2 separate regions of the Homo sapiens genome follow, and region 1 is linked to region 2. The links come from fine-mapping of genetic effects on gene expression. A gene starts in region 2. The other region holds a variant in brackets. All regions are shown on one strand. Distances are from middle to middle.

Evidence for each region. PIP is the estimated chance that this variant, and not a neighbour inherited with it, causes the effect.
Region 1: its variant is the best candidate, but not a certain one, in a credible set for the expression of ARHGAP15-AS1 in substantia nigra (GTEx, PIP 0.74).

What each region holds. Positions count from the first base shown.
Region 1 is chr2:143,903,799-143,908,205 of GRCh38, forward strand. No RefSeq gene overlaps it. Among named protein-coding and RNA genes, the nearest start is that of QTMAN-AS1, 31 kb to the right of the region's middle. RefSeq lists an enhancer at 2,860-3,418. The variant C/T (reference allele first, on the strand shown) is at 2,301.
Region 2 is chr2:143,774,272-143,778,678 of GRCh38, forward strand. ARHGAP15-AS1 (ARHGAP15 antisense RNA 1) reads right to left here and starts at 1,827. Exons shown (of 8, transcript XR_007087251.1): 1 at 1,732-1,827; 2 at 912-1,087.

The DNA of each region.
Region 1 (4,407 bases), 130 kb after region 2:
TTCCTTGACTCACCCTTGATTACAGGGAATGTTCTCTATTACCTTTTAAAATAATATGATATCCATAAGCAAAGCTTTGGATTAGCATTTTTGATAGCATTACCCATCACTGATTTTTTTTTCAATGCTGAAATGCATAAAGTAGGGCTAGAGCCAGCCTAAACCTAGTGCTTAGCCCAGTAGTGTATTAATTATCTTTTGTAACTTCAGAATAAAATGCAGAATTTCCCTCCCTAGGAACCTGGAATGCAATGTTTGCCCATGTAAGCAGTTTATAAGTGCAAATGTGAGTAAGTGTTTTTATATATTAGAAAGGTTGAGAGAATCCTCTTTCCACAAAAAATAAAAAGCTTTAAAAGAATAAATATTCATGTTCTAATACAGGGAATGTGAAATAAAAATAAGTTTAACTCTATTGATAAAAAGTACTTTTATTCAATAGTTAAAAGACAAATCACTTGCAAAATTTGCTTATATAGGAAAAAACTCTCAGTGTTGTAGCTTTCTTTATCATAGAACACCAGCCTCCCTCAAACACCAACTGTGATAATTAATGTCCATATTATGAACATTCTATGTGATACAATTTGTTTCTGCTTTGTTAAAAAAAAAAAAGGCCAAACTGACTGCCAGCACTTGAGATTCTGAAAATAATACTACATATGTTGATAAAATAATTCACTGCTGTTATTAATTTTCCAATTATATTTTGATATTTTAAAAAACTATTGTTATCATATACTTTTATAACATATCTAAATATTACAGATACATAAAACAGAATTGGAGACTCCCACCCACAGAAACTCTCATATAAACAACCTGGTGAATAATTCTTCAGATTTCCTCTCCAAGTGTTCTAATATGTATATAACTTTTACCAAAATGACACCATACTATACCTTCTGTTTGTGACTTCATTTTTTTTATGTCTAATAATTCTTGGACATCTTTTCCATTTGAAGCCGTCAAAACTGCCTCATTCTTGGAATCTCTATGGGCATCATAGTAGAAGGGATAAGATCGTGGGCTTTGGGACCAAATGGCTTAGCTGCATTTGAATCCTAGCCCCAGCATTAGTAATTCTGTGACTTTGACAAGTTACTTAATTTATCTGTGCTTTGCTTTCTAAACCCATAAATGTCAAATTAATAACATCTACTCAAAGTGGTTGCCGTGTCCATTAACTAGTTGCTTCTTGACATTTCGTAGGCATGAGACCACAATAGTACTGTTACCAAGGATATCTGATATCTTATTAACAATCTCACATTGATGGACATTTAGATTGACCATGATTTTTTATTCTCACACATAATGCTCTAATGAACATTCTTCTAAGTACAGCTATACCAATTTTGTGAGTATCCCTAGAGGCTAAATTTTTGAAAGTGTCATGTTTTTAATCAAAGGTGATCTATATTTTTAAAATGATAAATATTGCAAGACTATCTCCAAAATTGTAACTATTTATACTATGAATAAGAGTGATGAGGGTAAATTTTGGATTATGAGAAATACTTTGTTAAACCTTTTGCCCACACATTAAAAATGCATAGTTTTTGTTTGTTTCTTTGTTTGTTTTTACAAAGGAGCAGAGTATTACTGGAACACAACATATCTTAAGTAACATTTGTATTATGTTATCCATAAAAATCCAAATTTTTTTCATAATTTCCCCCATTCTCACAGTTCTGCAAGTCTTTGAGCCCTATTTCTCCAGAGAAAGAATTCATATCACCTTATCTTCATATAATCAGTTATTATTAAATGCAGAAAATAACATTCCACTAGGCAGCTACTCATAAAGATCTACAAATGAGATGTGTAACAAATGTTTATGGAAATTAGTAAATCAAGATATGAAACAATTATGTCATGTTCTACAGGTATGGTAACGTTAGTCCTCAAACCCAGACTGAAAACATTCTCTGACAACTCTACCACATGTTCAGAATTGAGATTGTTCAAGACTGGTTTTCTGTAGTTACACGAGAGCCCAAAGGGGTGAAACCACCCTGAGATGGATGAACCTCTGAGGTCTAGTAATATGTGGCGCATGTACAGTGTGAGAGAATATGTCCTCGAATCACAGTGGAACTAAATGGCAAACATTTTACAACTTCTGGAAACACATTTCTTTCTGGTTCTTTGATGTAAAGCTAACTTGAGGCTTTGTCCCAGATAGTAACATCCGATACAAAGAAGTAACATAGGAATAAGTTGATTTCTATTTATCAACATAGAATTTAAATAATTTTTTAATAATGAAGAGGCTTTACATCAGGTTAATAGAAAGG[C/T]AAAGATAAATGTTTACACAGGAGAAGTGGTGCATAGCTACATCTGTTCTCCCCACACACAGCAGCAAATATTGTGTTCTTTATGAAGTTTTATTTGCTTTTCATGCTTACTGTTGTTTACATGTTCTAAAATCTCTGCACGATGGAGTTTTCAAATGAAATAAAGATATCTAAATACTATAATTGGGAATTTTCTTAGAATTATTTTACCCTTTCTAAAAATAGGTTAATATTTGGCATTAACGTTTTTCAACTTAAAATACAAAATTGTTCTAAAACTGGGAGTTGAGGGTTAAATAGAAAATTAATGCGTATTTGCATTTTTAAAAAGATTTCCAGAAACAGTATTTGTTTTATCTAGTTTTATATTTAACACCTTTTGAGCATGAATCAATTCTCTACTTCTCTCTTTACTTGATCTTTTAAACTAAGATTTTTCTGTAATAACATAAGCCTAATTCTTTGGAAATAATATTCAGTTAGCATAATTGACATTATAGAGTTTTAAAGTACATTATAGAATATTCTGTCACTAGACACTAAATTGAAATTTTAAAGAAAATGATGGAAATTGCTGTAAGGGAAAAAAAGTAGCCTTTTAAATCTAATTTGTTATGCACTGCAGTAGGGTAATGGATGCAATGAAAGTTCTTTTATAGAGTTCCCATGTCCAAAAGGTATTTAGGTAGCAAAGGATGTTAAGCAGACCCCTGCTATCCCCCTTTAACTGAAGATAGCAGGAAACAAGGTATATAGGTCTGTGTCCTCCTGATTTTTATTTCCTCAGGAGTACAACTTCTGCAAAGGACACCTTAGGCTGCTTAGCGATCACAAAGGGTACACTAGAACCCCTCGCTGTCTGCTTGAATAGCACGATCTGAAGGGTGGCTGAAGCCATACAGGGAGTTAAATCCTTCAGGTGGGTCTTTTCAAATTCCAATAGTGAGGAGTTACTGGAGAATTGGTAAGGATTTCACTAGGCCCCAGCAGGTTTGAGATCAAAAGCTTCAGTTAAATAAAAGCCTATTGGGAAATCTTAAAACCTCTTTGTAATGTAACTTTAAAAAGTTAATACAAAGAAACCTTAGACTGAAGCCAGTAACAGCATGAACAAAGAGTATATCAAAACTGATTCCATTAAGAGAAAGCGGACATACAAATTCACTTACTTTAAAGAGCAATCCAGTTATATTACTGTGCGAGAGAATAGAACTTACACCATACCATCCAGCCCATTTAGATGTGCTCATTTCTTGCTACATATGCCAGACTGTATTCTTTGTCATTCTGATATGCTTTTTAAACAACATATATATTCATTTTCTGAAAGAAGAAAGAGTGATGTGCATCTAAACTCACTCCTAAAGAAGATCCTTTTAAAACAAATTAAAATTAAACTTGATGGAGACCCATCAGTCAGCTGGTTATCTCTTTCTCATGGTGTCAAACTGCTAATTGCCCATCCTCCTTAAAATAATAGACCTTCAATTGATATTGATTGGTAGATCATTAATGAGTGCATTAATTATAATGTAATTTTTATAATGAATACTAATCCATTCCTTGGCAAGTCACACCCTTTTATTAACTGAAGTCATTCATTAATGGTTTAGTGGGGGAAAAATGAACTTTATTTGGTTCTGAGGTCTGAATTTTGCATTGGTTTTGAATTTTTCAGAACACTTGTACTGAAATGTCTCATGTACTCAATGTCTCTTACACTTTCACATTAGGCGTGTGAGACGGGTAGCTCACATCTCCTTTTTTCAACAAATAGGGATACTGGAACACACTTAGGACATATAATGTGATCCAGATTGCACAGTCATTTAACGAAAGCTTGGACTACATAGACCCTCTACAGCTTGATTTAAGCCTAGAGACTTTTCAACTGGACAATGTCTCACTGGTCTCACAGATTGCAGAATGTAATTCGAGCTAAGTTGCACATAGCCGTATTCATCCCAAAGAACTCTTTTTCCAAGTAGTCATTACTAACAACGAATGTCCTGACATTTTCATAGTGATAGATGAAGAAACGGAGGCACTTGTACTCACATTCAAAATTTCAGCTCCTTTCTCTCTTCTGTTCTTCAGTTGTCTTGTC
Region 2 (4,407 bases):
TGATTTTTGCTATTTTATGCTTGAAGCAAAGTATGCAGGGTCCACAAAACTCTTAAGCCATCAGTAGGATTCTATACAACACTCCCCATTCAATAAGGAGAGCGCTAAGAAAGCAGTAAGTGAGAGTGGCAACACCATGCCCGTGCTTGGGGCTCTGTGCACACTTGATGGATCAGTGAACCAAGACAAAAACCCAGAACACTAGCAACATTAAATACAAATATGATCCACCGTCAGGTTTCCTATCAAGTTAAATGTAGCGTCTTATGTGCAGCCAAATCAGTGGTATTTGTGTTGACTCTTAGTCCCACCTAAACAAGGGCCATCAAACAGACATTCCTTCAGCTACCTCTCTTGAAGTGCAAGTCCCTAAGAAATGCTTACTAAATCACAGAAGCAGTGGAGAGATGGTAAGATTCACCAATCTAACCCATGCAAGTCTGACAGCAAATTTTGATGTCCCGGTTCAAGTCAGCTGGGAGGAGGAGGGGGTCTTAGGCATCTGTGACACCCAGCAGCATCTTCCACTAACCTTCTCTCCACTTATCAATGTGTGGTTTACATGTCAGACAAATGTTATAAGGCATAGGCATTCTGACCAACATATGAAAATCTCAAAAGCCAAGGAATCTGGAAAATACAAGGCAGTGGCCTGAAAATCCTCACTTTCCTCTGGCACTATTTTCGCTAACAAGTTTACTTGACACACATGCACACACACACACACATGCACACACACACTGGAATTTTAAGAGCAGGAATGTAACCATTGTGCTAACCATTCTCACATCACTCGCAAAATGTGTTCTAAGTCCATATTGTGCAGCATACTTGAAGACATGTGGATTTTTCCACATCATTTGGTGACATTTTACACAGTTTAATTTCTGCTCTTTCTTGCTAGACCCTACCTTTTTTTTCTCTCACAAACATTCCACCAATGGGATTTTCTTGAGCATTTTATCCTGCGCTCAGATTCCTCCCTTTTCTTCAGCATCTACTTGTATCGCTGCTGCACAACTTTGCCATGATGTGTCTGTCAAATTTCAGCCTCCCAGATTGAAAAGAAGGGGACACAGGTGTTCAACTGCCAAGGAGAGAAACCAGGTTAATGGAGTAGGGGCCGGCCTATGGGGCCGGCCTAAAGGGAAACCTCACAACCACAGGCAGAGGCCAACATGGAAGACTCCAGAGAAACGTGGTCCAGCTCGGGATGTTCCATTCCTCCATTCTCCTCACCAGACCAGGTGAAAGGCAGCTTTTAAAGTTGGAAGGAGTGAGGAATACAATTGAAACCAAAATTGGTTTGAGCTCACTATTTTTCTAGCTATCAGTTCTGAGGTCACAGTCACTAAAACTGGAAACTTAAAAATGACTTCAAAAAGGCAAACGCTAACTAGATTTCACACTGGATTTCATTTTACTTGGCATTACAGAAAGAATGCAGGTATTAAATACACTGTTTCCTGTATACAATAAGGTTAATTAGTAGTGAGGGATGGAAAATCAGTGTAGACATAACTCTTTTCGACAGGTATCAAAAATAATCCCCTGATCCCTACAGACCCCAGCTGCATTGAAAGAGGAGTAATATAAAAGATTCTTTAAGCACAAAATTTTCAAACATTCTCCAGGTGTCCCCAGCACCAGTTAAATAGGCCCTGAACCCCCTGTGCATGGGCTGGCTCCCGCTCCATTCCCTGGCTCTAACTTAAAGGCGCAGCTACTCACATTGAATTTTCAGGTGCTGCGTAAAAGCTCTCCATACAAAGCGGCTGGGATTGCAAACGGAGACAGACAGGAGAACAAAAAGAAGAATATATTGCGCCCTGCCTGGGTCTTCCCTAAGCTCCTTATCAATAAGGTTAATAAGGGTCTATGCAATTTACTGATCACTATGATGCAACAACCCTCCTTGTGCTCCAAATCTCCACGTAGGCGCTGGCTTTTAATGCTTTTCTCAGCCAATCACATAAAAGCGCTTTTGCCCGCACCCCAGAGAATAAACTCCGGTTCACGATCCTGGCCTCTGTAAAATCTCTGGTCCGTTATTACACTTCTACCTGCCCTAGTTAAGCAGATTAACAGTTATTTCCTAGAATTTGATCTATGAGGTTCTTTGTAATTGAAGCTGGAGTACTCAGATATTACTAAAAAATGTATTTCTGAAAAACGCATTCCTTTTTTCTCTGGTTTAATTTTGTTATCCTCAATCATATGCATGATATTAAAAAAATCCAAATTTCTATCTCCTCTATAAAATACATGTCATATCAAAAAGGTGACAAGAGGGGGGAAAAGTAATTAGTGAGTTCACGGAGTTCAGTAGAAAAGTTAAAATGGAGTAACACATTACTTTTTATGTTAAGATTTCACAAGACAAGTCTTGCCTGTGTTTTAATTGCATGTGACCCTGGCAGTCCTACTCTGAAATGAAGTGCCGTAAAATTAAAGATGACAGACGCTCAAAACAAGTCTTGTGATCTTGATTAAACTACAAAGACCACACTCTCTCTCTGCTGCAACTCAGATATCATGGGCTGTTTTATTTGGGGAATTGCTTCATTAATGCCTTCTTTGACTAGACATGTTTATTATATTAAAAAAACTGAATATGGTGATATCTCGCATAGCTAAATAATTCCCCCTAAAATGCAAGTTACAAATGAAGAGTGTTTAAATATCCTGCAGACCTAATGCTTTTATAAATGCTCACAATTATATATCTATATATCATATGTATGTGTGTGTATGCATGTGTGTGTGTGTATATATATATATACCACAATCATGAATAATTGAATATGGGCATGTATGGATATATATGACCATATTCATCCTTGAAACATGAATTACCTATGCTAACCTAGGAATCTCTACTATAGTCTGAGAAGCAGAGCAATTATTCTACTATATTTTCTTAGCCATGTAAAATTTCCCAGGCCAACAGAATGTAAAGAATTTTACATTATCCTATACAGACAACTTCTGAGAAAACACTGGAATTTTAAAGTTCCCAGGTATAGTCTGAGAAGAGAACTGGATTTGATTCACACCTGATTTTTCAAAATTATTATCAAGACATTCCATCTAAGTTATATAAAACATAGAATAGATGCTTTTAAATCCTGCTTCTTCCCCTGGGTGGGAGTGGGAAAAAAAGCAGAGTTGAGAGCAAGTCCTTATTTCATTCTGCTGTTAGTGTCTCTCCCATATGTCTCCACTCACCAGGTCTTGTTCAAATCTCAAGCCCTCTGGGACAAGTCCTTGTCCTCAACAAGGACCTTAACAAGTAGGTGAGATTATTCATGTCTAGGGTCTCCTACATTCTAAAGTTCTACGATCCTGTTATTTTGTCCCATTTCAAGAACACTATTTTTAATTCATGTTCCAATTCGTCAATTTTATTTCATTTTAAGAAACAAGAAGACACTATATTTGTAATATACACTGGCTATGTGGGTGTTAATATCTAACAGGGATATATGGATTCACCTGAGAATCAGAGCTGGGAAATCTGGTTTCCAGAATTCACTTTTTCCTGGAGTATTCATCATTCCAGATAAGTCTCCATACACATGTCTCAATTTCTTCATGTTCAAAACACATATGGCAGTTTTTGCCCTACCTAACAAAAAGGGTTGTTGTGAAAATAAAATACAATACTATATATTAAAAACTCTTTGAAAAAAAGTATGACTGATGCTTCCCAATCAGTATTATTTTTACAATTTTTCTACCAATGGCCTTCAGTAAACACAAAAGCTTTTGCATTTACAAGCCAACTGACCCTTTAACTTACACTGTTCTTTTAAAAATCTTCATGCTTGCCTTTAAAATGAAATGCTTGTTCCTGTATGTTTTTTCAACACTGTCAAAAATCCTCAGGTGAAAGATATATCATGTCTTTCATATGGGAGATTTTTATTTGACAGAATAACTCAAGATTCTGGACATAAGAAAGTGTTTATTAGAACCTAATTATGTATAGCATTGCGAGATTATGTTCGGCTAAGAGAACTGCAGTTACATCTACTTTCAGCCTCTCAGTCTCTCTCTACTTCCGAGTCTACTCTCTTCCGTGGCTCTTTTATCTTTTTCTATCTTGGTGCCTCCTTCTCTGTTTCTCTGTGTCTCTTTATTCCCACTCCATACCCTGACATTCAGTACAGGAATTTTAACATAGGTTTCGTGGGTCCCTGGACCCCTGGACTTCAACAGATGCAGGAAATCTCAAAACCTTCATGCTAGATTTTTGGCACATTTTTCTGGAGTCCAAGTCTGGAGTTTTCATCATATTCTCAAAGAGGTCTGTAACTAGGAATTACTGTTCTAGATCCATTTCCCAGCCTATCAATACTGCTATCTTTTGTCTAAATTGAACTGTAGATGGGTCACTGTCAATCA